Linked DNA regions of Homo sapiens: region 2 is linked to region 1. Evidence: fine-mapped expression QTL. A gene starts in region 1. The other region holds a variant in brackets. All regions are shown on one strand. Distances are between the middles of the regions.

What was found. PIP is the estimated chance that this variant, and not a neighbour inherited with it, causes the effect.
Region 2: its variant is the best candidate, but not a certain one, in a credible set for the expression of PMVK in prefrontal cortex (ROSMAP, PIP 0.89).

What each region holds. Positions count from the first base shown.
Region 1 is chr1:154,931,760-154,940,033 of GRCh38, forward strand. It overlaps PMVK (phosphomevalonate kinase), which reads right to left and starts at 4,960. Exons shown (of 5, transcript NM_006556.4): 1 at 4,832-4,960; 2 at 593-656. The coding sequence starts at 4,926. RefSeq lists a silencer at 4,410-4,509 and enhancers at 4,466-5,408, 5,230-5,429, 5,409-6,350.
Region 2 is chr1:154,776,270-154,784,562 of GRCh38, forward strand. All of the region lies in intron 2 of KCNN3 (potassium calcium-activated channel subfamily N member 3), which reads right to left. Among named protein-coding and RNA genes, the nearest start is that of KCNN3, 90 kb to the right of the region's middle. The variant T/C (reference allele first, on the strand shown) is at 4,722.

The DNA of each region.
Region 1 (8,274 bases):
GGTATTGGCTTTTTTTTTTTTTCACTTAATGATATATTTTGACAACTTCTGGGACTAAATTTCTTTTTTGTGTGTTGTTGTTTACTTTAAAAAAAATTTTTTTTAAAGAAACGGAGATGGGGTTTCACCATGTTGGCCAGGCTGGTCTCTAACTCCTGGACTCAAGCAATCTACCTGCCTCGGCCTCCCAAAGTGCTGGGATTACAGGCATGTGCCACCGTGCTCGGCCTGTACTAAATTTCTAGGAGCAAAGTTCTAGGGGCTGTGTCAGGCCAGCTGAGTGAGAGGGTGGTGTGAGGAGGCACAGGCAGGTCCTTACTAATCACACAGCATCAGAGCTGCCAACTCGAGTGTCGACAGCCTTTCCTGGGCACACCTTCCTGAACTCACTCTGAAGGGAGGGAGGCTATTAGGAAAGAAATATAAGCTGAAAATGCCCCCGAAAGGTCCACTCACAGAAAACCAAGAGCTGGCCACCACCCTGCCAGCAGTGGTGACGGGAATCATGCCAGTGACTCAGGCAGCAGCCACAGCTCCAAAGTCCTGGAGCCGGCCCCGCCCAACACACCGGATGCCACAAAGCACCACCTACCTGAGCATACTGTTCCTTGAGTGGACCAGAGAGCCGGAGGACAGCACAGACATCAGCTCCAAGTCTGCAGGACAGGGAGATCAGAATCCAGTTAGCCTAGAATTTCCAGGAGCTTCCATGTCCCAGAAAGGGAGTCAAGAGGCCTGTGTTGAAGTCCCATTTCTACTACTGGTATTATGTAACTTTGGTAGGTCTCAATGTCCCTGATCCTGTTTCCTCATCAGAAAATGGGGATAACACTTTCTGTTCTGTCTCCCACACAGGATTATTATGAAACTCTAAAGAATATAAAAGAGCCCTGAAACTAACAGGTAAAACCTATAAAGTGCTAATTACAGTGTGAACAGGCGCACAATATTCTAGCTGGATTAGGTTATTGCCCAGACCCTAAACTAATTCTCTCATAGCCAGAGGTATCTGTCTCCACTGACTTGGTCACCATAACATATATCATTTATTAATTCACTGGTTGGGCATGGTGGCTCACACCTGTAATCCCAATACTTTGGGAGGCCAAGGCAGGAGGAGTGCTTGAGGCCAGGAGTTCAAGACCAGCCTGGGCAACACAATAAGACCCAGAGATACCATCTCCACCAAAAAATTTAAAAATTAGCTGAGCATGGCAGCATGTGCCTGTACTCCCAGCTACTCCAGAGGCTGAGGTGGGAGCATTCCTGAGCCCAGGAGTTCCAGGCTACAGTGAGCCATGATTGTACCACTGTATGCCAGCCTGGGAGACAGAGTGAGACCCTGTCTCATAAAAATGAAATAAGAAAAGCAAATTTAAAAAACTGAAACAAAAGCCAGGTGTGGTGGCTCACGCCTGTAATCCCAGTACTTTGGAAGGCTGAGGCAGCAGATCACCTGAGGTCAGGAGTTTGAGACCAGCCTGACCAACACGGTGAAACCCTGTCTCTACTAAAAGCATAAAATTAGCCGGACATGATGGCGCATGCCTGTAATCCCAGCTACTCGGGAGGCTGAGGCAGGAGAATCACCTGAACCCAGGAGGTGGAAGTTGCAGTGAGCCGAGATCGCCCCATTGCACTCCAGCCTGGGCAACAAGAGTGAAAATCCATCTCAAAAATGAAAATAAAAATAAAAATAACTCATTCGTTATTTAATTTACTTAACCAACCTTTTTTTTTTTTTTTTTTTTTGAGACGGAGTCTTGCTCCACCACCCAGGCTGGAGTGCAATGGCGCGATCTCGGCTCACTGCAATCTCCGCCTCCCAGGTTTGAGCGATTCTCCTGCCTCGGCCTCCCAAGTAGCTGGGATTACAGGCGCCCGCCACTACACCCGGCTAATTTTTGTATTTTTAGTACAGACGGGGTTTTGCCATGTTGGCCAGGCTGGTCTCAAACTCCTGATCTCGTGATCCGCCCGCCTCAGCCTCGCAAAGTGCTGGGATTACAGACGTGAGCCACCGCACACGGCCCTTCTTTTTTTCTCTTTTTTGAGACAGAGTCTCACTCTGTCGTCCAGGCTGGAGTACAGTGGCACCATCTCGTCTCACCACAACCTCTGCCTCCTGGCTTAACCAACCATTTATTGGGTACCATATTTGGATCTAGGTGATACAAATGTGAATGATACATGCTTCCTGTCCTAGCCTTGAGATGCTCACAATACACTTAACGCACAGGAAGATAAGTGCTGTTTTTGAGACTGAGTCTCACTCTGTAGCCCAGGCTGGAATGCAGTGGTGCAATCTCAGGTCACTGCAACCTGCACCTCCTGGGTTTAAGCTATTCTCCTGCCTCAGCCTCCCAAGTAACTGGGACTACAGGCCGGCGCCACCACGTCCCACTAATTTTTGTATTTTTAGTAGAGAAGGGTTTTACCATGTTGGTCAGGCTGGTCTCGAACTCCTGAGCTCAAGTGATCCACCCTTCTCGGCCTCTCAAAGTGCTAGGATTACAGGCGTGAGCCACTGCGCCCAACGATAAGTGTTCTTTGTTTTGTTTTGGTTTGGTTTTTTAAGAGTCAGGGTCTTGCTGTCACCCAGGCTAGAGTGCAGTGGTATGATCACAGCTCACTACAATCTTGAACTCCTGGGCTCAGGCAATCCTCGCACCTCAGCCTCCTGAGTATCTGGGATTACTGGCATGCACCACCATACCCAGCTAATTTTTTTTATCTTTTGTAGAGAGGGGGTCTCACTATGTTGCCCTGGCTGTAAGTGTTCTTATTTTCATGTTTCAGATGAGGAAGCTGAGGTTGTGAAAGGAGGATTGACTCCCCCAAAGCAACACTGCAAGTAGTGAAGCCAAGATTGGTAAAATAAATATAGCCAACATTTAGTTCCTGCACCTCTGCTAGGTGCCAATAATTATTCTAAGCCCTTCACACACATTATCTCATTTAATCCCCACAACCACCCTATTATCATCCCCATTTTACAGATGACAAAACTGAGACGCAGGCCAGGTGCGGTGGTGGTTCACGTCTGTAATCCCAGCACTCTGGGAGGCCGAGGCAGGCAGATCACCTGAGGTCAGGAGTTCCAGACCAGCCTGGCCAACATGGTGAAACCTGTCTCTACTAAAAATACAAAAGTTAGCTGGGCATGGTGGCACACACCTGTAATCCCAGCTACTCGGGAGGCTGAGACAGGAAAATCGCTTGAACCCAGGAGACAGAGGTTGCGGTGAGCCGCAACCTGGGTGCGCTCCAGCCTGGGTGACAGAGCAAGACTCCGTCTCAAAAAAAAAAAAAAAAAAAAAAAAAAAACATGAGGCACAGAGTGAATGACAGATGTGTACAAGATCACACACTAATCAACAGTGAGCCAGGGTTTGCATCCCAGCAGTCTAATTCCAGAGCCTGTGCTTCGGACCACTATTTGACGTCAGGGTTTGGAGGTGAGGAGAAATGCAACTTAGGAAAAGGTGGTGAGATACTTAGTGATGAAAAATTCAGGTGGTGACCTCTGCTCTGGGCTCTCCCACACCTTCATAGAACCCCCGTGGTACCCAAAAGCAGCTTCCTGGTACCCCCACCACACTGGCCTTCAAGAGGAGAGGAGCCCCACTTTCTCCCCAACCTCTGCTCTCCTAGCCCAGGTCTCAGCAAAATGCTCCTGCACAGAAGATCTTGCTTTGACAGAAAACACTGTGCAAAAGGTATTATTATTTGGGGAGGCAGCCAGATAAAACAGAAAGAAACCAGTCCTTGGCGCAAGATAAAGTTGAATTTGTTTGGGTTTTTTTTCTTTTTGTTTCAATTATATATTAATTGCTGAGATGCCCATCATGAACCACAAAGCTGAATTTGAATCCTGGATTTGCCACTTACTTTGTGACCAGCAAGGGTTTTTTGTTGTTAACTTCGTATGTTATTTTATTTTATTTTACTTCGAGACAGGGTCTCAGGCTCTGCTGCAAGGACTGGAGGACAGTAGCATGATTACAATTCACTGTAGCCCCCAGGTTCAAGCGATCCTCCCACCTCAGCCTCCTGAGTAGCTTGGACTAGAGGTGCTCGCCATCGCACTAGGCTAACTTTTCCATTTTTTTGTAGAGACTAGGGTCTTACTGTGTTGCCCAGGCTGGTCTCCACTACTGGGCTCTCAAGCCATCCTCGCACCTCTGTCTCCCAAAGTGCTGGGGTGACAGACATGACCACCACACCCGGCCTGTTTAACTTTTTAAGAGCCTCAGTTTCTTCACCTGTGAAATGGAGATGCTAATAATGGCACACAGTACCTAACAAAGAGGTGAAGAGGGTTTTTTGTTTTGTTTTTTTAAGACAGGGTCTCGCTCTGTCGCCCAGGCTGGAGTGCAGTGGCCAATCTCGCCTCACTGCAACCTCCGCCTCCCGGGCTCAAGCGATTCTTCTACCTCAGGCTCCTGAATAGCTGGGACCACAGGCACGCGTCACCACGCCCAGCTACTTTTTGGATTTTTCGTAGAGGCGGGGTCTCGCCATGTTGCCCAGGCTGGTATCCAACGCCTGGTATATAGAAAGTGCCTTCGTAGGAACCATTATTAATGCTTCTCAGAGAGACCTGCAGCTGAAGGTCTTTGGAGAGGTGGTCACCTGCTTCTTTGAGGCTCGCCTGTGTAGACTACTGTTTTATGTAATGGTGGCATTCCACCTTCCCCAGCCCAGTGCTCCTCCTGCCTTGCAAACGGACGACCCGTACTCCAAAGCTCACTCCGTGACACCCAAAAGCACTCCTCGTGTCACGTGATGCGGAGAGCTCCCCCTTCCACCTTTCCCGCCTCACGGACACCTGCTCTGCAGCGCCTCGGTCACGAAGTCCTTCCCGGATTTCCTCTTGCCGCTGAACAGCAGTACCAGCCGCGGGGCGCCTCCCAGCGGGGCCATGGGGCCGCCACGCCTCGCGATGCCTGAAGCTGACACTTCTCCCTACCCCTAAAATCGGGACACCGCGCGGAATGGACGCGGCCACTAAGCGGAGCGGCAACAAGGAACAATCGCGCCCCTCCTCGCCGTAGCTGCGAACAGGGCTGACCGCCCGCGACCGTGCCCTCAGCTCATGTCCAAACAGATATGGGGAGAAAAGGGTGAGACACGCGGAGAGAAAGGCGGTTCCTTCACAGAGCAGCCTCCCCTCGTGAAGCTCCCCCACCCGAACTCACTTAGAACAGTCCAGCCCCGCCCAGAACCTTCGCTCACAGCCTGGCCTGCTTAACTGACACCCGGGGAGGAACCGGACGCGACTACCTTCCTCCGAGGGGGGTGACGTCTGAAATTTCCTGAGGTGAACCCCATGTTCCCTTCCGCGCAGCCCTAAAACTTTAGGAAAAAAAATCTCTGGAGTGAGATCACGTTGGAGACGTTTTGGAAACTGCCCTTTTGCCTGTGCGTTATAGTACATGTGCCACAGCAAATCTGCGCGCGCCCCAGAGTGGGAATGGGTCTTCCTGGGGGCGTAAGGCAGCCCTGACGCGAGCGGCGTGTCTGGCCACGTCATGTCGGGGGAGGAGCAGAATCGCGCACACGATATTTCATTGTCAAGCAGATTTTATAACCCGAGACGTCACTAAGATGTGGCCCTTTAAGCCCGGCGAGAAACCTTTGATTGCTTTTCTAGCCGCAGCCTCCGGCCCAAAGGTTTTCGGAAGCAAACGGCGTGGGTGACATCAATAGTAAGGGAGCGTTGAATCCCTAGATGAGATTGCCTGGTTTCATCCGAAGTCTGGCTCCCAGCCAGAAGTTTGAGAGGCAGGATAAGAATAATCTGTCCTTTCCCTGCATCCCCGGTTCTGCCTCTTCCCGCAGTAGGTGACGGGTTGCCCCAGCTGAGTACGTCGAGTTGTTTTTGGCTATGACTTGCCGTCCTGCATTTTTCTGAGCATGTCAGAACAGAGCCTGCAACTCATTACTGCCTCCACTAGAGAAAAAGTGTAGTGTGGAGACTTAGGGAGAAACCATTAATTTCCTGAATGTTGAAAAGAGGCACAGGAGAGTGGTCAGATGCAAAAAGAACAGACTTAAGGAGGTGGTTTTTTGTTTTTTGGGGTTTTTTTTGTTTTTTTTCAGCAACCCAGAAAACACTGCACTCATCAACGCCCTAGAAGGCAGCACAGAGTGGATTTTCAGTCCCAGCTTGGACACTTAGCAAGTCACTCTGAGTTTACCACTGATAAGGCCCACTTCCCAGGGTTATAATAAGAAAGGAATGAAGAAAATATATGACAAGGTACAATAAAATACTTTGTAAGTTCTCAAGTATCATCCAGATGTAAGGGGTTGTTATTTATTCTTAGCACTTCGTCATTCAACACAGAATCAGATTTTCCAGCTCATCTTCAATAAACATGTATTTGGGCCTCCACGGAAAGTCCACATCTCCTGTTTTACCTGAGTCACATGGAAGGAGTCAGAACTTACTCCCGGAGTCTCTTTCCTCACCTGACCCAATGCACGCCCCTTACCTCCCTCTCTGACTCTGAGATCCAGCTCCCTGAATACCTAGTGAGCGATCAGAAAACTTCCCCCAGGCTCACGCCTGTAATCTCCGCACTTTGGGAGGCCAAGGCGGATCACCTGAGGGCAGGAGTTCGAGACCAGCCTGGCCAGCATGGTGAAACCCCATCTCTACTAAAAATACAAAAATTAGCTGGATAGCTGGACGTGGTGGCGGGCACCTGCAATCCAGCTACTCAGGAGGCTGAGGCATGAGAACACTTGAACCTGGGAGGCAGAGGTTGCAGTGAGCCAAGATTGTACCACTGCGCTCCAGCCTGGACAACAGAAAAAGACTCCGTCTCAAAAAATAAAAAAAAACTTCCCCCATACTAGGCTTCCTAGTATGCCTCAACTGAACTCCACTGTCCCTTACTGGTGTCTCAAGTGGAGGCTTTAGTCTCCCAGCCCTCATCCCTCAGCATCCGCTTTGAGTCTATGGCCTCCCTTCCTCCCCATTTTAATTTCCACACCATTACTCATCCTGCCTCTTGGAAAACTATGGTTCCTCTAAGGCTCATGCCACCTGCCTGCGCTACCCTCCTGCTTTCCTCAGTACTGGCAGCCCAGCAATCCTGGTGGTTCATTTTCATTTTCTTTTGTTTCTTTATGCAGACGGGGTCTTGCTATGTTGGCCAGGCTAGTCTGGAATTCCTGGGCTCAAGCAGTCCTCTCTGGCCTCAGCCTCCAAAAGTGCCGGGATTACCAGTGTAAGCCACTGCACCCAGCCTCATTCTCATTTTCTGAGACTCAGCCACTGGCTCCCAGTCTCCTTTTCTACAGAGTTGCTGTCATCATCCTCGGTGACATCACGGTCATGGCCAGCCCATCCAACACCCCGCTGCTCAATCCCTTGGCCCTGGCTGTTCAAAGCCTTTTCCCCCCTCTCCTCCTCAGAGGCCAGCTCCTATGGACACACCCTGGGCTTTGTCATCACCAGAAGCTGCTCAACCTGCAAACTCACATGCTCATCCACCCAACCCTCCAAGGTCACTTGCTCAAATACTCCCCAAAGTAGCACTTCCCTCCCAAGTCCACTAGCTGGTGGAACTGGTTACATTATATAACATGCTCTGCCTGCCTTCCACAACCCAGGGGAAAAAAGTTAAATGTGGCCCGGTGCAGTGGCTCATGCCTGTAATCCCAGCACTTTGGAAGGCCGAGGCGGGCAGATCACGAGGTCAGGAGATCGAGACCATCCTGGGTAACACGGTGAAACCCCATTTCTACTAAAAATACAAAAAAAAAAAAACAAAACAGCCAAGCGTGGTGGCAGGCACCTGTAGTCCCAGCTACACTCGGGAGGCTGAGGCAGGAGAATGGCGTGAACCCAGGAGGTGGAGCTTGCAGTGAGCGGAGATCAGAGATCACGCCACTGCACTCCAGCCTGAACAACAGAGCGAGACTCCATCTCAAAAAAAAAAAAAAAAAAGAAAGAAAAGTTAATGATCCACCTAGATGACAGCCATGGCTTGTTTCTTTTCTTTTTTTGAGACAGGGTCTCACTCTGTGCCCAGGCTGGAAGTGCAGTGGCGGATCATAAGCTCACTGCAGCCTTGATGTCCTGGGCTCAAGCAATCCTTCCACCTTCAGCCTGCTGAGTAGCTGGGACTACAGGTGTGTGCCACCATGCTGAGTTAAACTTTTTTTTTTTTTTTTAATTTTTAGTAGAGATAAGGTCTTGCTATGTTTCCCAGGCTGGTCTCGAACTCCTGGCCTCAAGCCAACCTCCCATCTCAGCCT
Region 2 (8,293 bases), 160 kb before region 1:
CTGACCTTGGCCCTGCCTGCCTCCTGGGGTTAGTGTTAGGATCCAATAATACAGATAAAAAGTTGGACAGTGCTTTACTCACTGCTCTAAAAATGTGAGGGATTATTAAGCTGGCTGGCCTGGGGGCACTCGTAAACAGTGTGTGTAAAGAGCGGGTGTTTTGAGTAGGGGGTGGGGGAGAGTTTTCAGGCTGCAGGTTAAAAGCTTCTGCTAGACAGGGCTCCGCTGCAAGGTTTTCTGCATCTGCAGGGTGGGATGTGTCCCAGAAGATCCCATTGCTGTCCCACGTGAGGACACTCTATGCTTCCTTCCTTCTGACCCTTGGAATCACAGCTCTCCAAGTGTGGCCTCGCTCCCTCCCGATTCAGAGCAAGTAGCAGATACCCCAACCCTGCTGTTTCCTCACTCTGGGTCCCATTCATTCCTAACAAAGCACAATCCCAATTATTGATTTGCATGTGTGAGGTTTTGCTGTCTCTCCCCTTAGACATGGTTCTCAACCTACTTGCGTCGCACATTAGAATGACTTGGAGGGCTTGTTCAAAAATACCCATGCCCAGGCCCAGGCCCACCCCAGGCCAAGTAATCAGAATCTCTGGGGGTGGAGCCCTGGCACGGGTGTTCTTCTTAAGGCTCCCAGGTGAGTCTAAAATGTAACCAGGGTTGGGACCCCCCAACCAGTCACAGTTGGAGCTCCAAAGAGACAAGCGCTGTGTCTTCCTTGTTCCCTGTGGCATCTCCAGAGCCTAGCCCAGATCTTAGCACTTAGTAGGTGTTCAATAAATGCTTATTTAGTGAATTAGTAACTCCCACTTACTGCGTGCCCCTGGACTAATCTTCCCTCTCTTGGGCTCAGCGTCCTCCTCTGAGGAATGAGGGAATAGACTAGACAATCCCCAAGGTACCTCCTGCTCTAAGAAGCCATAATTCTGTGGTTCTACACAGACCCTCTTGCTCGCACCTCCTGCCTCATCTGTGTTCTCGGTGCACCTGAGCTCTCCAGGGACAGGAACCGTGCCTGGCTCATCTCACCCCACTCCCATGCCTGAGACGTTGCCTGGCACAGAGTGGGCAGTCAGTAGAATCTTGGTGAATAAAGGGGTGTGTAGGCGGATGACTGTGTCATATGAAGAAAAGGACAGATTGCCTGTGGCCCTTGTTAACCACCCAGAATGGAAATTCCTGTTGAAAATCCATTCCTAAGCCTGTGACTCACAAAGGACCTGACAATTCATCTCACACCATGGGAAGGGACACCCTCTTATTCCCAAAGGGTGGTTCAACCTGGAATAAACTGTCCCAGGTGACCTCCAAGCCTTAGAAAGTTCTAGAGCAAGTCTGGAACCAGGATCTTGAGTAGCACTGGACCAGAGGGGCTCGGGGAGTGTGTATGTGGCTCCACAAAGGACTATCCTCCCCTAGGGCTTAGTCTCAGTCATCCAGCCCTGATTCTAGACCAGCTTGACTGTTGGCCTCTGATGGATTCTGGAGAAGTACTGAGGTGATGTGGACAGAGTGTGGCATGGGGCAGGGAGTACCGTGGGCCCTCAAGTGGTCTGTTCTGGCCTGTTCCAGAGCAGGAGAAGCCACAGAGGCCCAGGGCTGACAAACGAGTCTCTTCCTGATGAGGCATAGGTTTGCTCCTTGTACTCTGGCTTCCCTGAATGGGAAAAGGAAAGCCACATTCTTCGAGTCACTGACTCTTTCTGCCTCCTAAGCCTAAAAAAGTGATTTCACTCATTGAGGGTATGACTGACCTGAAGATGCAATGTGTCAGTACCACAGTCTCTGGTTTCCTGAAAATTCCATTCTTTCCTCAGATAGTTGCTCTGTCCAGAGGTGGCTCTAGGCCTAATCCCTCTACCACTTAACTGGTGGTTCTGAGAACTTGCCGGATTTTCAGCCGTTAGTATAATTCTGAGAGCTCTGGGAGGGAGATTTTATGCAACAGTGATTCCAAACTTTCCTTTAAGGAGCTTGTAATTAGAGAAAAAGGAGAACTAACCCAACTCAGTTCAATATAATAATTATTAAGAATCAACAAGGTTAGGCCATTGTGGGTATATAAATCTGAATCAAACACATGTCCCATGAATCAGTGCACAATCTCAAGTAGTTCTAGCAAAAGACATGCATGATTAGGATGCAATTTGAAAAGCTTCTTGGGTTACATAGGGCTTCAGCAGCGCCCGGAAGGCATGCATCAGACACACCAGAGGGGGCAGCTTGCAGAAAAGGCCACAGATTCCTCCCATCCCATTCACTTACTTCTGTACATGTGACTTTGCCTCTCTTCCAATCAAGAAGTACAGCCTATTTCTCTCTCCCTCTCTCTCTGTCTCTTTTTTTTTTTTTTTTTTTTTTTTTGAGACAGAGTTTCACTCCTGTCACCCAGGCTGGAGTGCAATGGCACCATCTGCCTCCCGGGTTCAAGCGATTCTCCTGCCTCAGCCTCCTGAGTAACTGGGATAACAGGCACCCACAACCACACTTGGCTAATTTTTGTATTTTTAGTAGAGATGGGGTTTCACCATGTTGGCCAGGCTGGTCTCGAACTCCTGACCTCCAGTGATCCACCCACCTTGGCCTCCCAAAGTGCTGGGATTACACGTATGAGCCACCACGCCTGGCCAGTACAGCCTATTTCTCAATCCCTTCCGTCTGAACTTAGCCATGTACCTTGCTTTGGCCAGTGGAACATTAAAAAGTGTGATACAGCAGAGGTTTAAAAAATGTCATCGCCATGAGGCTCACTATAGACACATGGCCTCACTATCCCTTTCACCCCAGCCTGCAGCCAGTACCAGCTGCCAGCCATCAGAAGCCGTCCTAGACCAGCTGCATGACAGAAGCTCACCCAAGGTGAGACCAGCAGAAGAACCACCAAGCTGAGCCCAGCCCAAATGACTGACCCACAGAAACGTGACCTAAATTATTATTTTAAGCCATTATGTTTTGAGGTGCTTTGTTATGCAACAAAACTAATATATAACAAAACTAATTCTTATATTTGGCACATATTAGAAAAGCCAGGTCATGTGCCTACTGTGCCCAACATTTTCCTTTTAGATTCTTATGCCACAGCCCCTAGCAGGAACCCTCACCCGTCCCCACCTTCCCACTCCACTCAGTTATATTTGCTGGCCAGTCCTTCTCAAGTAACTGGGTGACTGGATGGGGAGGAGATCAGGGTCAAGGGCCATTCCTTGATGGCCATTCCCCCATCCCCACTCTCCCCATGGACACATGATTTGAGATATCAAAGAATAACTCAGAGCATTTAAAAAGTTATTTTGCAAGCAGTTTAGTTGTTTTGCATACAAAGTGTTTTCTCAGATGTGAGGAAGTCAGCTGGTAGACTGAATCAGGGAACAAGGGCACAACAGAATTAATGGGCAGGGGGGCCGCTGGAGAAAAACAGCAGGGAGTCTGGGAGCAGTGGACCTTGTTGGCAAATGCTGAGGGTAAATGGATTCGCTGGCAGCTAACAAAGAGGTCAGCATGGCATTCCATCCTTGGACGGCCAGCGAGGGATAGTACAGAAAGCACTTTCAGTTATTCAGGGATTCTTCAGAAGCCCTTGGCTTTCAGCTGTGGGTGTGTCACAGGCCCTCTCCCTTGTCACCTGCACCTCAGGGAGTCCAGGTCTGACCTTTCCCTGGTTAGAGTGTCTCGCCAAGCAAAGATGTCATCACCAGCTCACCACAAGGCCAACGCTGAAGGCCATCTGGACACCTCAGGACAGGGCCGTTCAGCTGCAATCTCTGCAGGGCCTGGGACAGGCTGCCTTGACAAGGAGACAAGGACACTACCCAGTGCCTCCAGCAGCCACATGGCACAGCCCGAGCTTCAGACTTGCGAGGCCTCCCCACATTTCCTGCAAAGGGGTAGGCATGCAGGGAAGCTTGCCTTTTTTCTTTTTTTCTTTTTTTTTTTTTTTTTTTTTTTTTAGGATAAGTTTAGAGTCGATTCATTGGATTCACTCGTTTTTCCCCCCATTCTATTTTGAAAGACTTGAGACCTTTCTGATTTTTTATTTAAGCAAAATCTGTCATTAAAATGTTCTCAGCTATCAGGGAGGAGAGCGTATTCCTGCTTAGACACTTTCTGACCAACCTGAAAAACTTTCACTCTTGCACAACTGTGAATTTCTCTAAATTAAAGGAGAGAAAATGGAAAAAGCCTTTTTGTGTACTGTTCTCTCTCTGTGGGGAGAAGAACTTCCGGGAAAATTTCCATCATTTAAAAAAACGACACAGAAACAAAGCAAGAAGAAAAAATTACAGATTTTCTTAAGATATATTATTTATATATATGTTTTATATTTTATATATATATATATACATATATAAATTTAAACACCCTGGAGCATATATTCTGCATGTACACCATTACTACGGGGGTTACCATGGAAGCAACATCAAAAATCCTGTAGTACCTAATTAGGTTTCCCTGAGGACAGGAGCTGATTGCCAGTGACGAAATGAACTTCTGGGTTTGCAGCAATGGTTGGTAAAATTACCAGTCAGCAAATGCTCCATGGAACTAGAGGAAGAAAGGGAGGCGGGTGGGGGTTGGGAAGCAAAGGTGGAAAAATGGTGGCTCTAAAAGAGGCCAGCCAGTGAACAGGCCTTGTCAGGGAAGTCTATGATTCTACCATAAACAAGATGCTTAGGGCGTTGGGGTCCACGCTACCCCGCTCTGTGTCTAAGAAGAAATTG[T/C]CCTCATCTGAAACCATCCCACTCCCTGGGCCATGTGTGATGTCCCACAGTGGCTCTTTGGTCCGGCCAGGATAGGCTTCTCCTGAGCGCTTCGCCAGAGCTCACTTTTGGTCTCTTGCAGTGTGTAATGACCACTCATGGGGGTTATGGAGTCTGAAGTTTGTTTGGGACTAACAGAGACCAGTGGTGATCATAAATCCTTTCCCCTGTCCTCAGTTCTCAGAGAAAGAAAGCCAAGTTTCGGCATTTGAGCGAGCCACTATTTTTTACTCACGTAGCAGGAATTTCTTGATCCCTGAGCACGTCACCACTAGGGATAGAGCATCCCACCTCTGGCCATCTGTGTGTGGCAAGTCTCTGGACCTCAGATTCCTCAGTGTAATGTGAAGACTTGGATGCAATTTGTGGTTTTCCATTTTCTCTGGGCTGTGGGGCCATTTCTTTCATAAGATTTTTCATGTACGCCCAACATGGGAAACAGACAAATTCAGAGCTGTTGTAGTTGAAAGGGTAGAGAAGAACATTCAAAGATCAACTCACTCACCTCCTCCTCCAGCCTAGGTCTCTGTAGTGGACCCCATGCTCTCCATAGAACCCTTTGACTGGAAATCCTTTGGATGGACCAGCTGGTCTCTAGTTGTAAGGAGAGACAAGGTGTGATGCTGGAAATCAAGTGTTTGGGGTCTGGTTCAAGAGGTGCTCGATGCACAGGCAGGGAGCTTTGCCCCGATCAGCTTATTCACTCATTCATTCATTGAGCATGAGTTGAGCCCCCATTATGTGACAGTCCTTGGTAAGCTCTAGGGATATAGCAAGACAAGTAGACAAGGCCCCTGTCCCCACAGAGCTTACATTTCAGGGGAGGAAAACAGATATTAAACAGGTAAACCATTTAATTTTAGAGAGTGATGCCTGCCAGGAAGAGAATAAGACAGGGCAAAGGAAATGAGAGAAGTCCCAGACAGCCAGGACAGGGAGGGCTCTCTATGGAAGGGACCTCTGAATCCAAAGTGAGCCTTGCAAAGGTATGCATTACAGAGGGGACAGCATGTGCAAAAACCCCAAGGCAGGATGGAGCTTAGAGAGTTGGAGAGATAAAAGAAAGAAGACCAATGTGAGAAAGAAGTGAGGGATGATACCAGGTGAGACCAAGAAGGTAGCAGGACCCAGATCATTGGGACCTTGGATGTCACAGAAGGAGCTTCCTCAAAGGACAGGAGACCACAGACCCACTCCCACCAGGGCCATGTGCACCATGTCACCACTTTCTGAAAACACACTGCCCACAGGTTAAATATGCACCACAGCTCGGGCCTCCGAAACAAAATATCATAGACTGGGTAACTCAAAAAACAGAAATGTATTTTTTCACAGTTCTGGAGGCTGGAAGTCTGAGATCAGGGTGCCAACACGGTCAGGCTCTCTTCCCGGCTTGCAGGTGGCTGCCATCTCACTGTGTCCTCACATGGCAGAGAAAGGGAGAGGGATCTCTCTTTTTCTCTTCTCCTAGAGCTGCAGTCCTATAGGACTAGACCTCATCCTTATGACCTTATTTAAACTTAATTACCTCCCACAGACCCTTTCTCCAAGGCAGTTACATTGGAGGTTAGGGCCTCAACAAATGCGTTTTGGGGAGACACAATTCAGTTCATAGCTATTCCCTTTTGTGTCAAAATTACCCAAAAGCCAGACTGTGGGCCGAGCCAGGTGATTCTGCACATACCATTTCATTGCCATCTCATAATGTCCCTGTAAGGGAGTCATACATCCATTTAGCAGATGAAGAAACCCAAACCAAGACAGGTTCAATCAATTGCCTGGGGCTTGCAGCATTCTGTGTCTTCCAAGTCCCACGCCCTTTCACCTGCCAGCCTGCTAAGCAGGCACTCTATTTGGGGGCTGGCCAGTTTGGGCTTTACTTTGTCTTCTAAAGAAAACTCGGCTGGGCGCGGAGGCTCACGCCTGTAATCCCAGCGCTTTGGCAGGCCGAGGCGGGCGGATCATGAGGTCAGGAGATTGAGAACATCCTGGCTAACACGGTGAAACCCCATCTCTACTAAAAATACAAAAAAACTAGCCGGGCGTGGTGGTGGGCGCCTGTAGTCCCAGCTACTCGGGAGGCTGAGGCAGGAGAATGGCCTGAACCCGGGAGGCAGAGCTTGCAGTGAGTCGAGATCGCACCACTGTACTCCAGCCTGGGTGACAGAACGAGACTCCATCTCAAAAAAAAAAAAAGAAAAAAGAAAAGAAAGAAAACTCAAGCCCACCCTTTAAATGCTCATTCTCAGAAGAATCTTTGCTGACCAGAGAATCAATATATGATTAAAATAAACTGGGTTCTATCCCTGGTGTCCACACCACCTGGGAAACCCACATCGTTATCTGTAATCTAGACTGGGCTATGTTTGTGGAACTAAGACCACGGCTTTCATTTCCACAGATACAATATCCATTTATCATCTTTCCCTTCCTCCTCTTCCCGCCAGTGAACAGGCCTCTATGGAGACCTGGTGATGGGGTCCCTAGCGAGGAAGAGACCATCTTAGTTTAGGAGCCCACTTATGCACCCCAGCATGTTTGCTAATGAAGAAGATTCCTCTGGACAGGCTTGGGGTGGGGTCAGAGGAGACCAACACAGGGCTTAATATATGTGCCCTAGAAATGAACAGGAACACTGGAGATGGGGGATTGTGAGCTGTGGGACTGGAAGGAGAGGGGAGCTGGCTAAGCAGCACCTTGGGCCAGTCCCATGAGAGGGGGAGGCCGGAGCCCACTGAGGACTTGACCACCCATGAGACAGGGACAGTGCTGAGACTGTAAGATCAGGAGCATGTGGCGTTCAGCGCTGTCTTATCTGTTGTGCCACCACCACCTCACCCCTTCCCCTTGCTCCAGATCCATGGAAATGTCAGCTAACCTAGAGGCCTTGGTCATGGGTCCCTCGAGGAGCAACAGGAACAGGAAGGGTGCCTAAAGCGGTTACTAAGTACAGGATGGAGGTGGAGAATTCAGCAGAAAGAGTTTGGCATCAGATGAGCTGTCAAGAGAGAAATGGAAGTTTCCAAGCCCCCAGAGACCAGTGGAAAGACACCGGGTCCCCTCCTGTGTGGGGTGGGAGTTTGTAACCAATTATATTTGAAGCAGTAAGGCCAAGTGACCCCGGCCAATCCTTGGGTTGCTGTGGCCACACCTTGGTCTCATCATGTGCTCCACCCCAGCCATCTTTACATTGCTGCCAGAGCAAATGTTCTAAAATACAAACCAAATCATGTCACCTCCCCTTCTAGAACCTTTCCGTGGCAACCCAGAGTGTCCACCCTCCTAGCTGCACTTGGCCAAAAGGGCCTTTTCCCACCTGGCACCAGCTGGCCCCTCTATCCCCATCACCTGCCACACCCGGTGTCTCATCCCAGCTAAACCAAGTTACCAGTAACCCCTAAGCTTGCGCCCTTCCATCTTCTGTACAAGCACTCCCTCTTCTCAGCTTCTTCACCAGAGACCTCCAGATCCAGCGTCCCACCCTTCCACAGGCCTAAGCTGGTCCCTTCTGACTCCCAGGTGGGGCTGGGTGC